4 linked regions of the Homo sapiens genome follow. The protein of the gene in region 2 purifies or fractionates together with the protein of the main gene of each other region. This does not show direct contact. Each region holds a gene or a part of one and is shown on either strand. Other genes may lie near its edges.

Region 1 (3,257 bases), on a different chromosome or scaffold from region 2:
TCCCTGAGCCACATGTTTCACACAAGTGTAGAAAATGCCAGGGATCCACCACAAGATGGAGATGGTCAGCACAAACCGATTCTGTTCCTCTTTAAAGTGTATATTAGCCACTTAGCAATCTCTATATTCTTTCAAGTAACCAAGCTGTTGACTTTCTTACTACTTGCAGTAGCCTGTCCCCAACTTTTCCATCCAGTGCTTAACCTAAAAAACTCCTTAACTCTGCCTTGACCTGAGGAAGACCATGCTAACTGGTGTTATTTTGTATGTACCCTGTGCTTAATTCTATAACAGTAAACCCCATACGCAGGTGGGAGGGAGGAACACCGGTGCCTCGGTCACTCTGGGGGCAGTTTAGATGCTGTGAAATTAAACCTGTTCTAAGTGTACTTGTTTGAATTAATTGTATTGTAATATTATTTGTTGAATGTAGTAATTAGGTATTTATGAATATATTGCTGTAATTTCTGACAACATCCAAAAAATAAAATCTTCCTAAATTATGTTAAGAGGAAAATCTTTTTTATGATATAAAACAAAGCCAAACAAAGAAAAGCTCAATAACTATACATCTCCGCAGACGGAGCTGCCTCCACTGGCTCAGGCTCTAAGAGGAGGGCATTAGGACCCCTTGCCCTCCACAATAACAAGTGGTTTCATTCTAAAAGATCCCCAGATGAAAGCAGGAGGATTCCAAGGAAGGCTGAGATGAAAGAACAAGTCCTATGAGCTGAACCAAGTCTGAACAGCACCTTAAATTATGGAGACCTCATCTTTTGGTCCCAGTCTTCCAGGTCTGACCCTTCAGTGTCCAAATAACCACCAAAACCTGCCTGGCGGGGACACGTGGGCAGCAACATGGAGTGATAGTGTGCAGCATGCTAGACACTGGAGGGCAGATGCTGGGTGATAAGTCTTTAGGCTCAGCCTGTCACACATGCGCATTCTCAGAGCTCCCCAGACAGCACCCCACTGCTTTTGGCCCACTGGTGTCCAGCCAAAAATAGGCTGGCCAGGCATGGCGGCTCATGCTTGCAATCCCAGTGCTTTGGGAGGCTGTGGTGGGAGAACTGTGTGAACCCAGGAGTTCGAGGCTGCAGTGAGCTATAATCACGCCACTCTACTGCAGCCTGGATGACAGAACGAGACCCTGTCTAAAAAAAAAGTTAAAATTTTTTTTGTTTGAGACAGAGTCTTGCTCTCGTTGCCCAGGCAGGAGTACAGTGGTGCAATCTTGGCTCACTACAACCTCCGCCTCTCGGGTTCAAGCGATTCTCCTGCCTCAGCCTCCCGAGTAGCTGCGACTATAGGCGTGTGCCACCACACCTGGCAAATTTTTTTTTTTTTGTATTTTTAATAGAGACGGGGTTTCACCATGTTAGCCAGGATAGTCTCAATCTCCTGGCCTTGTGATCCACCTGCCTTGGCCTCCCAAAGTGCTGGGATTACATGCATGAGCCAAGCCAATGTGCCCGGCCAAAAATTAAAGTTTTTTTTAAAGCTGATTACAGAACCTTCTATCCATTGCATGATGCTGGACGATCATTTCACCTCTCAAGGTAATGTAATTTCTGTAAAGGTCCTAACATTTCCAAAATGCTACGAATAAAGTAATTTTCTCTTAGGAAAAAAATAATTTCCCCTGAGCCCACTGTTACCTACAACAAAGAATCCTTCCCCAAATCCATCAAGAGCAGCACTGAAAGTGACTTTTCTTCTAGCATTGTCACTCATGCTCAATACATTGTCACTCATGCTCAATACATTGGATTCGTTTTTTTCCTGACTCTCCTCTTGATAAGCAACCCATTAAACCTGAGCTAGAAGTAGCCAAGAGAAGGAGACACCCCAGGTGTTGGTCTGCAGTTTCCACTTAACTGCCGTGTGCCTCAGTTTCGTTGACTGAGTCATCTCAGCCACAGGCTCAGTCCTTTTACTTGGTAGTTACGCAGCACAAAAACCTAGAGAGTCAGAGCTGAGTTGGGTCCATTTTTATTGTGGATCAGGGCTTAGAGGATAAGCACCGGTCAGCATTGTTGGCTGCACCATCTGCCATCCTTCTCTGTGAGCCACCTCTGTGAGAGAGTCTAAATTCAGCCCAAGAAATCAGGATCAAGAAGGGGTAAAAAGCCGTGGACCACATGGCCACTCCTGCTGTATCTACACCTACCAGTCACTGAACACCTGCCCAAGTGTGATGGCTTCCATGCAGGAGACCCAAGTGGCTCTGCTAGGGAGAATGACTTATTTACCTAAGGCTTTTTTATTTCTCAAAAGTGGGGGGAAAAAGGGCTGGTTTCTAGAAACAGATGTGGAATTGAAGAATGTCCCAGGGAGCTAAGTTTTAAGGACTAATCACAAACTTGTTTCTCCAACAACATCCTGAATCCATTCCTTGCACCATCACACATTTTTCATGCATCAGAAGTGTTTCTAGAGCTCCAGAACCACGAGTACCTCATCACGTCCTGAGCGCTCACATCCCCCAGCAAGCCGCCTGCACCAGGCCTTTCTCTAGAAGTCCTGAGACTGAGTACTCTCCAGAGGCTGGAGGTTCGTGCGGAGTTTGTACATGTGGTTGAGCGCTTGTGTGAGGAAAGTCCCGCTGGTGTTGATCTCCATCAAGGTCAAGTTATCCAGCTAAAGCAAGAAAACAGACCAAGTTGGCCAAGGAGTTTTTGATTTTGAGAAAAAGGTAAACTCTACTGAATAAAAATAAGAAACCAATGAACTGTTGAAAAGCACAGCTAGTAATGCCTGCCTGTAATAGCCTCAGCAGACGGGAGCCATGTGAAATTATGCGGCATCAAGGCCACCAGCACCCAGGCAAGGCGGCACCTACCTTGGCATGTGCCTCCTGCTGTCTCACAAAGCTGTCAGCAGACACTCGGAGTTTGGCTATACGAGTGTCCCACATATCCTTGACCAGGGTCCGGATTTCGTCTGCCTTCGGGATGTTGTCTGAAGCACTAAAGGAGCAAGGGCTAAAGTCAGTCGGGGAACACTTGATAACCTGAGGCAATGCTGGATAGAGTGGCTCTTTTCAGGCAAAATACCGTGGCTATTCCAGACTCAGAAAGTCTGTTTTGCTTTATTTTCAACTTTAGGGTGTAAAGATTTGTAGCAGTTAAGCTTGGTGCGGCAGTGATCCACATGGAGTTTCTTTTGCTCACATTAACTATCCCATGGCAGGCTGCTGAACAGGACTGCTGTTTACCTAAGAAAATTAGTAGAGAATCAGCTCTAAGTCAGAAGCC
Region 2 (3,500 bases):
AATATGCATATGTTTATTTTACATATATAAATATATTTATATATAAATATACGTATATTTATTTTATATATATATGTGTGTGTGTATATATATATATATACACACACACACGTATATACCCAGGGAGAGGCACTAATTGTGCAGTTTTGAAAAGTTTCCTAGTGATGCTGCCGTGGCCTACTTTCAAAGCACTATGCTTAGGTTTACCACTTAAAATGTTATTACATTTTTCCAGAAGTACACTTTAAAATACTTTGTTTTTAAAGTGAGGCATTACAATGGTGTCATGAGCTGACATTCCCAGCCACTGACTGGAAGATTTGGGTCAACCCAGGGAACAGGCTTGGTTTAAGGGAGTTCAAGTGTTGGTGGCCTTTGGGTAAAAGTTTATGTCTATCTTTGTATGTGGGATTCAGTAGGGATTTTCTTTAATGTTAAAAATTCTAGTTTCCTCTGTATTTGCTTTCCTTCTTCCCCTGTCCTCCCTGAGCCTCCACACATGTGTAACACATTTTATTTGCCAATAGGTCAAGGAGGTTAAAAAGACTTTGTCGGGCTTGGAAGTCAGCATGGTTACTGCAGTTCCCGGTAGGCTACCAGTCATGACCATGATTCCAGATGTTGACTGCCTGCTCTGGGCCATTGGGCGGGTCCCGAATACCAAGGACCTGAGTTTAAACAAACTGGTAAGCTGGCTTGGTCTGCCCGAAACATTTGTGAATCTACTAGGAGTCTTATGGTTTTATTTTCCCCCCAGACACCCAAAACTTGGGTGGATTCCATTGGATTCTTTTCTCTTTTTCCCATGTATTCAGTTTGTGATCAAATTTCATTGCTTCTTCCTTTGAAATTAAAAAAAAAAGTTTTCTCTTCTCTTCTTTCCTTTTCCTTTCTTTTCTGTTTTTGTTTTTTTCTTTTTGTTTTTGAGAAAGGTCTTGCTCTGTCACCCAGGCTGGAGTTCAGTGGTGTGATCATAGCTCACCGCAGTCTTAACCTCCTAGGCTCAAGTGATCCACCCACCTCAGCTTCTGGAGTAGATGGAACTATGTGTGTGCCACAATGCCCAGCTAATTTTTTTATTTTTATTTTTTTTAGAGATGAGGTTTCACCATGTTGCCCAGGCTGGTCTCCTCGGCTCAAGCGATTCGCCCATCTCAGCCTCCCAGAGTGCTGGGACTATAGGCATGTCCCAGCATGTCCCAGAAAAAGGCCGCCACGTCTGGCCTTTTTCTTTTTTGTTTTCTTTCCTTTTTTTTTTTTTTTTTTTTGAGACAGGGTCTTGCTTTGTCACCCAGGCTAGTGTACAGTGGCATGATCATAGCTCACTGCAGTCTTGAATTCCTGGGGTCAACTGATCCTTCTGCCTCAGCTTCCCAAGTAGCTGGAGCTACAGGAATGTGCCACCACACCTGGCTAATTTTTAAGTTTTCTGTAGAGATGGAGTCTTACTATGTTGCCCAGGCTGCTCTTGAACTCCTGGCCTCAAGTGATCCTTCCACCTCGGCCTCCCAAAGTGCTCGGATTATAAACATGAGCCTCCATGCCCAGCCGGCCTGCCACCTCTAACCTAGTTTCCTATTGGCCTCCCTCTTACAGACTTCGTTTTTGCTATGTGAATGTCTCTTTCAAGTCCTATGCTGATCTTTTAGCATCTGTAGTAGGTAATCCAGATTGCTGGGTGGGTAACTGTCTTGTACATTGTACACAGGGATGGGAACAGATGTGAAGCTGTCTCTCTTGGCTCTACCCGTGCTGTCTGTATTTGTGGACAGTTGGCATTCTTACTTGTTCTTTTAAATGTTGAAGTAAAATCTAGAATGGGAGCTTGGGGTTTGGTTCCCAGAGTTTGACCCAAATTTGAACCTTAGTTCTTACAACATAACAGTTGCATGGCTTTGAGCAAGCAGCTTAATTTCTCTGCTTCAAGTGGTTCATATTCACAATGGGAATGAAAAAAGTTCTTGCCTCATTGGGTTATACAGAAGAGTAAATGAAAAAGTGCATGCAAAGTAATTTATAACTGAGACCCTAGCTTACATTATGAACACAATGAATGTTCACCTGCTATTGATAATGATGATGATTTTTCTGATATGCTATACTACTCTATTAGTAATAATAGGATATTTTATGTTTGAGGTGCATATATTTATTTTGTTCTGGGTTTTTTTGTTTGTTTGTTTGTTTGTTTGTTTGTTTTGAGACAGAGTCTTGCCGTGTTGCCCAGGCTGGAGTACAGTGTTGTGATCTAGCTCACTGCAACCTCTGCCTCCTGGGTTCTAGCGATTCGCCTACCTCAGCCTCCCGAGTAGCTGGGATTCCAGGCGTGTACCACCACGCCCGTCGAATTTTTGTATTTTTTTAATAGAGACAGGATTTCACCATGTTGGCCAGGCTGGTCTCGAACTCCTGACCTCAGGTGATCCACCCACCGTGGCCTCTCAAAGTGCTGGGATTACAGGCGTAAGCCACTGCGCCCAGCCTGAGGCGTATATATTTGATAGAGCTGCTTGAGCAGTGTATACCTTTTGACTTATGTTCTAATACTAAGTTCCTGTTGTAATGTGGATTCCTTTTCTGTTTCTGTAAAAGGTCATTTTTCTGCATGTTAACTTATAAAATATTCAGGGAGATGTTTTGATTGTTTGTAATCTTATTCAATGACATTTAGTAAAATTAATTGCCTATTTTCATATTAACAAAACTAGTCAGCCAGGCGCCGTGGCTCACACCTGTAATCCCAGCTCTTTGGGAGGCTGAGGCGGGTGGATCACCTGAGGTCAGGAGTTCGAGACCAGCCTGGGCAACGTGGTGAAATGCCGTCTCTACTAATAATACAAAAATTAGCCAGGCATGGTGACGCATGCCTGTAATCCCAGCTACTTGGGAGGCTGAGGCAGGAGAATCGCTTGAACCCAGGAGGCTGAGGTTGCAGTGAGCCGAGATCACGCCATTGCACTCCAGCCCTGGCAACAAAAGCAAAACTCCGTCTCAAAAAAAAAAAACCAAAAAAAAACACCAAAAGAAAACAACAACAACAAAAAACTGGTCATTCAGCTTTTCACCTTTCAAGAGATATTTTGCCATTGTACAGATGTAAGCACTGATAGGTCCAGTTTTCAACTAAATTTGCTAACTTTTTTTGGGGGGGTTGGATAGGGTCTTGCTCTGTCACCTAGGCTGGAGTACAGTGGTGCCATCATGGCTCACTGCATCCTTGCAGCATCAAACTCCTGGGCTCAAGCCATCCTTCTACCTTAGTCTCCCAAGTAGTAGGAACTACAGGCGTGGTCCACCACACCTGGCTAATTTTTAAAAAAAATTTTTGTAGACACAAGGTCTCGCTGTATTACCCAGGCTAATTTTGAACTGGGCTCAAGCGATCCTTCCACCTCAGCTTCCCAAAGTGCTGGGATTACAGGCATGAGCCATTGCACCCAGCCTATATTTGCTAAATTTTTGAAGAATGAGGCAAAAAAAAAAGGTTCAGTCTCATTTGA
Region 3 (3,500 bases), on a different chromosome or scaffold from region 2:
CCTGAGGGAAAGCAATTGGAAAGACCATGGATTTTTCATTAGAAACCATGCAGGCCAGAAGGAAAGGATGCAGTATTTTACAGGTGCTCAAAGAAAAGAAGTGTCAACTAAATAATTCAATATCCAGTGAAAATATCAGAATGAAGGGGAAAATGAGACCTTCTCAGGTGAAGGAAAATAAAGACAATTTATCACTGGCCAATCTACCCTAAAGAATGGCTAAAGGAAGTTCTCTAAACAGAAAGGAAATGAAAAAAAGAGGAACCTGAAAACATCAGCAAAGAAGAAAGCACATAGTAAACAAAAATGTAATTAAATAGTCTTTCCTTCTGAGTTTTCTAAATTAGGTTTAATGACTGAAGCAAAAATTATAGCACTGTCTGATATAAAAAAAATATTTAAGACAATTATATATGGAGGATGGCAAAAGGACATAAAGGGAGGTAAGGTTACTATACTTTACTTAAACTTGTAAAATGATGATACAGACTTCATTTAGATTATAAGACGACACCAACTGACTGTTGTATGTACAGTATAATACCTAGAGCAACCACTAAAAAAGCTGTATAGAGAGATACACTCAAAAACACTATATAGATAAATCAAAATGGAATTCTAAAAAATATTCAAGAAACTCACAGGAAGGCAAGAAGAAAACAAAAACAGAACACAAACAAAAAATAAAGTGGCAGAACTAAGCTCTAGCATATTAGAAATTATATTAAGTGTAAATTTAAATATACCAATTAAGACATAAATCAGCACAGTGGATTAAAAACATGCCCCATGATATGGTTTGGGTATGTGTCCCTGCCCAAATCTGAGGTCAAATTGTCATCCCCAAATATTGGAGGTGGGGCCTGATGGGAAATGATTGGATTATGGAGGTGGAGTTCCCCTTTGGTGCTGTTCTCATGATAGTGAGTGAGTTATTGTGAGATCTGGTTATTTAGAAGTGTGTAGTACCTCTCCCCTCACTCTCTTCCTCCTGCTCCAGCCATGTAAGATGTGCCTGCTTCTCCCTCACCTTCCGCCATGACTGTAAGTTTCCTGAGGCCTCCCCAGCCATGCTTCCTGTACAGCTTGTGGAACTGTGGGCCAATTAAACCTCTTTTCTTGATAAATTACCCAGTCTCAGGTAGTTCTTTACAGCAGTGCGAGAACGGATTAATACACCCCAACAATATGCCACCTATAAGATATCACTTCAAATACAATGATATGGGTAGGTTGAAAGTAAATTGATGGAAAAGATGTATCATGTGAATATCAATAAAAGGAAAGCAAGAATAACTATATCATCAGATATAGGCTATAATATATCAAGTAGCCCTCAGATACTTGTATAATATATCAGATAACAAGTAGACCTCAGAGCAAAAGAAATTACCAGAGACTCAGCAGGTATTATATAAAGATAAAAGGGTCATGCCACCAAGAAGATGTTGCAATTCTAAATGTGTATATATTGAACAACAGGGCTGGGTGCGGTGGCTCATGTCTGTAATCCCAGCACTTTGGGAGGCCGAGGCAGGCGGATGACCTGAGGTCAGGAGTTCGAGACCAGTCTGGCCAACATGGAGAAACCCTGTCTCTATTAAAAATACAAAATTAGCCGGGTGTGGTGGCGCATGCCTGTAATCCCAACTACTTGGGAGGCTGAGGCAGGAGAATTGCTTGCACCCAGGAGGTGGAGGTTGCGGAGAGCTGAGATCATGCTATTGCACCTCCAGCCTGGGCAACAACAGCGGAACTCCATCTCCAAAAAAATAATAAAAAAAATAAAATATGTGAAACAAAAACAGATATAAGTGAAATGAGAAACAGAAATATTCACAATTATAGTTGGAAACTTCAACCCCTGTCTCTCAACAATCGACAGAAGAACTAGATAGAAAAATCAGCAAGGATATAAAAGAATTATATATATCACTATCAATCAAAAAGATATAATTGACATTTATGGAATACTTTACCCAATAATAGCAGAATAAACATTCTTTTCAAAGTACCCATGGAACCTAAAGCAAGATAGACCACATTTTCAGCAATAAAATAAACCTTGACAAGTTAAAAATAATTGAAATCAAATAGAACTTACTCTACTCCCACAATGAATTCCAACTAAAAGACAGAAACAGAAAAATAATGGGAAAATCTCCAAACATTTGGAAACTAAACAATGTACTTGTAAATAATCCATGGTCAAAGAGGAAAGTCTCAAGGAAAGTAAAAAAAATATATATATACTGAGCAAATAAAAATTGAAAATGCAATTTATCAAAATTAGTGGGACACAGCTAAAGCAGTGCTGAGAGGGAAATTCATAGCAGTAAATGAATACATTAAATAAGAGGAAAAGTCTCAAATGAATAAACTACTATATAAAAAAATCAGAGGCCAGGTGCAGCGGCTCATGCCTGTAATTGCAGCACTTTGGGAGGCCAAAGCAGGCAGATCACTTAAGGTCAGGAGTTTGAGACCAGCCTGGCCAATATGGTGAAACCCTGTCTCTACTAAAAATACAAAAATCAGCTGGGCATTGTGGCACATGCCTGCAATCCCAGCTGCTCGGGAGGCTGAGGCAGGAGAACTGCTGGAACCTGGGAGGTGGAGGTTGTAGTGAGCTGAGATCGTGCCATTGCACTCCACCCCAGGTGACAGAGTGACATGCTGTCTCAAAAAACAAACAAAAAATAATAATGAAGCAATGTCAGTATGCAAGAATAAGGGTTAAAAAAATAAAGCAGTGGACCCACTACAGACCCTGCAGACACTGAAAGCATAATACAGGATACTGTAACTCCACTCACATGTATGTAACAACTTAGACAAAATGGACCAATTTGTTGAAAAATGTAAACTTCTATAATTCAGCCAATATGAAGTAGATAATTTGAAGAACCCCGTATCTATTAAAGAAATTGGATTAAAAATGTAAAAAATTCCTAACAAAGACATTTCCAGATCCAGATGGTTTAATCTGGAGAATTCTACCAAAGGTTTAAAGAATTATACCAGTTCTACACCATCTCTTCCAGAAGGCTAGACATGGTGGTTCACACCTATAATCGCAGCACTCTGGGAAGCCAAGGTGGGAGGACTGCTTAAGCTCCGGAGTGTGAGACCAGCCTGGGCAACGCAGGGAGACCCTGTCTCTACAAATAATAAAAAAAAAAATTAGCCAGGCACAGCAGTACGCAGCTGTCGTCCCAATTACTTGGGAGGCTGAGACAGTAGGATCACCTGAGCCCAGGAATTTGAGGCTGCAGTGAGCCATGATTGTGCCACTGTCGCCAGCCTGTGTGACACAGCAAGATTCTGGTGGGGGTGGTTGGGGGGGGGGATGGTGGAAGGAGAAGAAAATAAACGAAGGAAGAAAGACATATATAAATAAATGTAAAATAAATTCATGGACTGGAAGATTTAATATAGTAAAGCTGTAATTTCTTCCCAAATTGGTACACAGGATTAATGCACTTCCTATTAAAATCTCA
Region 4 (3,500 bases), on a different chromosome or scaffold from region 2:
GAGCTTGCTTTCTCTATCTCCACCAAGTGAGGACACAGCCAGAAGACAGCTGTCTGCAAGGCAGAAAGAAGGTCCTCACCAAGAACCTGACCCTGCTAGCACCTTCATCTGGGACTTTCAGCCTCCAGAACTGTGAGAAATGAATTTCTGTTGTTTAAGCAACTCATGAGGGATTGCGTTGTAGCAGACCAGACTAAGACACAGGCTCTTTGCAAAATCTGACAAAAGCTACTACCTCTCTTTCCAGAAAAATGCACAATCTTATAGAATTTTCCATACAATGTCAGGAAACTCTGAGATCCTTAATGAACCCATAGACTTTCTATGCTGTCAGTAGTAGTTATAATAAAAAATAATACCTGACATTTATTGCCTACTTGCCATGTGCCAAGCATGGCTCTAGGTGTCAACTCATTTAATCCTCCCACCAACCCTCCAAGATGGGCATTCTCATCATCCCTATTTTATAGATGAAGAAAGTGAGGACAGAGAAGATTAATAATTTGCACAGGTTCCACTAGCTAACAAGCAGAAAAGCCAGCATACAAACTTGGGCAGCCTGGCTCCAGAGCTCAGCTCTTAAGCAGCAAAATATGAGGCCACCCACAGAGTTGAAGTTAAACATGCCAAGAAAATATGACATCCTGAATCATGCTCTGGAGAACATGTCTTCAAATTCAATTAACATTATGTACCTACCATGTGTCAGACCCATCCAAACACATAAGCTCATCCAACCCTCAAAACAGTGCTGTAAGTAACTCGCCCCAAATACCCAGTTAACTGCTGTAAAAACAGGAGTCTAGCCTGTCTTCTGACTTCAAGTTCAACATACCACAGCTGACTGCCTCTAAACTGGGGTGATGGTCCTGTTCTACATCACACAAGACCTCCCCATGACCAAAATCTTTGCAAGGTAACTGGTTGACATCCAATTCAATAGATTAAATCTGTAGACCCCAAAATTTCCCCATGGTGTAAAGCAATTCAGCATTTGAGGAGATTTTCCTTTATTATTCAGCTTTGGCCTGCTGAGACATCCTGGATGGATATGTGCTTCCAAAAGTTTGTACTTGAGTTTCATATGCATAAATAGGATTATTTACATACACTGCAAATAACTGCTAAATGCTATAATACGACATTGCAATCACATGCAACATAGCGTACATAAATATGAACATGCGAGCTACATAAGAGCTCCCCTAGTACTTACAGTTTCACAGTTCAAGCATCGAGTTTCATTGGTAAGCGTTCCCTGAAAAATCTCATGGACCCAGGTGAGTTCTGGTTTATTATTTTCCGCAGGTTCGTTCATGTTGCCATTTTTTAATTTTCCATTTTGTTTTTCCTGTTTCTTCTCCTCCTGAAGGATGTCCGCAATAGTGTTTAGCAAATAATTTAAAAATTCATGAGCATCCTGCTGCATGTAGTTATCAAAGAGATCTGGAAAGGAGAAGGTGGTTATTTCAGTCTCTGGTTCTTGAAAAGCAAATGGATGTAATTAGTGTTACATGCCATACTTAAATATTTTTTTTTTGAGATGGAGTCTCGCTGTGTCGCCAGGCTAGAGCGTAGTGGCATGATCTCAGTTCACTGCAACCTCTGCCTCCCAGGTTCAAGCAATTCTCCTGCCTCAGCCTCTTGAGTAGCTGGACTACAGGTGCATGCCACCACACCCAGCTAGCTAATTTTTGTATTTTTAGTAGAGACCAGGTTCACCATGTTGGCCAGGATGGTCTCAATCTCTTGACCTTGTGATTTGCCCACCCTGGCCTCCCAAAGTGCCGGGATTACAGACGTGAGCCACCGCGCCTGGCCCATACTTCAACTTTTATATTGAAAGGATGGACAGGTATGGAATATAAATATACTCATCTCTACCAGGCAGCTTCAATGAGTAAGTTTCCAAAGAGCTTTTTTAATTCATTTCCATTTTCTGCCATGCACCAAGAACAAAATTTCCCGTATCTCCCTAAAGTCATCACATTTATATAAAACTACCAAAAGTTCTATTTGTTCTACAAAGGAACAGAAGTTATCAGATAAGTTCCCTGATAAAATATCAATTTTTAATATGATGTAACTACCAATGATCAATTAATTATTCATTGGGTAATTTATTCAGAGCAACTGGGGTGTCCTCCCAAAGATCATATTAAACCCTGGACCAGCCTGGAAGCAGCTTAGATGAAACACAGAAGGGAGATGAGGGTATGTGTGAGCAAGCATCTATCTGATAGTGTTCCGAAACCAAATACAAATGATTCCAGAAGCCTAGTGCTGCTCCCTGCCATAAGGACAAACAATCAGAGATGAATGCAGCTGTGAACCTTCATTATTAATCACGTTCACAACTCGACAGAGTGCTCTGCTTCCTTCTCCACTGAAATTAGTTTTAATCTGGTATGTATAAACTGTAACTTCAAAATACAGCAATCAAATTAAAAGAGACTTTATAAAACAAATACCTGATTAACCATGCACGTCTGATGAAGTAAGGCTGAATCTAAGATAAATAGTAATTGCCATAACAAATATCTTTATAGTCATAAAAACTGCCAATACAAAACTTCTGGAATACACACCTAGTTTCTACTACCAATCCCCCAGAAGAAGAAGATAGAAAAACCAGAAAAATCAGGACTTTTAAAAACCATATAAAGCAATCAATTTGATATCCTTCAATTACCTCAGGCAAATGAAAATCAGAGGTATTGTATTTAAAACAGCAGAGGCTCTGATTAGATAACAGGCACTTATTTTAATCACCTATGACAAGTTTATAAGCCAGTACTATTTTATTTAATTATTGCATCAACCAATTTAGGCCAATGAGTATCCCACTCCGAAGGCTGCCTTGGACACTATTCTCTCTTACAATGATCCTGCCCAGAATGGAGCAAATAAAATGGTCATTCTAAATTGGAATAATAAATGTGCGTTTTTAAGCATGTTTCTAACCCAGTTTTGTTTTAAGTTTACTGGGCAGAGAAGAAATGTTGTTTCTTAAAAAATGACACCGAGTAGTTAACCATGCTTATTTTCCCTTTTCAAAAAAATGCCAGCTCTTCCTTTTGAGGAGATACAGAACCATCAATTCTCCTTATTTCAGAGGCTTAAATACATTATACTGCATACTACTCACCATTCTCTTTTCTCAGCCTTGAAATGAACTTCTTTGGTGGGATGACGCCAACCTTCTTCTTCTGTGTGGCAATGCTGTGGAAAAGGTCCGCCAGGCACGTCAGCAAGTTTTCCTTCTTCTTTTGCTGGGCCTTGTATGCCAACACATTCTCCCGGAATGGACGGCAGAAGTACAATGCCTGAAGCACGGAGTTACAGTAGCATGTGTTTCCAAACTGCCAAGGGACAAGAGGGATGGCTCAAGTCATTGCCTGGGGATGAGCCACCTCTGGAATAAGTGGTGAGGGTGAGAAGGTCCCTGCTCCGTGAACTGGCCTGGATGTCCCTGTATTGGAGTCCAGCTCACCATATTA

What was found. Proteins that work in one complex are often made in the same cells at the same time.
Region 1: the proteins of GSR (region 2) and GINS2 fractionate together in Homo sapiens (co-fractionation; one large-scale study listed by BioGRID). This does not show direct contact.
Region 3: the proteins of GSR (region 2) and GAB2 purify together in Homo sapiens (co-immunoprecipitation; one large-scale study listed by IntAct). This does not show direct contact.
Region 4: the proteins of GSR (region 2) and USP46 purify together in Homo sapiens (co-immunoprecipitation; one large-scale study listed by IntAct). This does not show direct contact.

The regions. Positions count from the first base shown.
Region 1 is NC_000016.10:85,675,698-85,678,954, forward strand, and holds the end of GINS2 (DNA replication complex GINS protein PSF2), read right to left. Parts: intron 2,970-3,257; coding exon 2,843-2,969; intron 2,641-2,842; coding exon 2,515-2,640; 3' UTR 501-2,514; downstream 1-500. UniProt on the Homo sapiens protein: Required for correct functioning of the GINS complex, a complex that plays an essential role in the initiation of DNA replication, and progression of DNA replication forks.
Region 2 is NC_000008.11:30,686,347-30,689,846, reverse strand, and holds part of GSR (glutathione reductase, mitochondrial isoform 1 precursor), read left to right. Parts: intron 1-527; coding exon 528-686; intron 687-3,500. UniProt on the Homo sapiens protein: Catalyzes the reduction of glutathione disulfide (GSSG) to reduced glutathione (GSH). Constitutes the major mechanism to maintain a high GSH:GSSG ratio in the cytosol.
Region 3 is NC_000011.10:78,407,821-78,411,320, forward strand, and holds part of GAB2 (GRB2-associated-binding protein 2), read right to left. Parts: intron 1-3,500. UniProt on the Homo sapiens protein: Adapter protein which acts downstream of several membrane receptors including cytokine, antigen, hormone, cell matrix and growth factor receptors to regulate multiple signaling pathways.
Region 4 is NC_000004.12:52,624,802-52,628,301, forward strand, and holds part of USP46 (ubiquitin carboxyl-terminal hydrolase 46), read right to left. Parts: intron 3,363-3,500; coding exon 3,149-3,362; intron 1,447-3,148; coding exon 1,217-1,446; intron 1-1,216. UniProt on the Homo sapiens protein: Deubiquitinating enzyme that plays a role in behavior, possibly by regulating GABA action. May act by mediating the deubiquitination of GAD1/GAD67.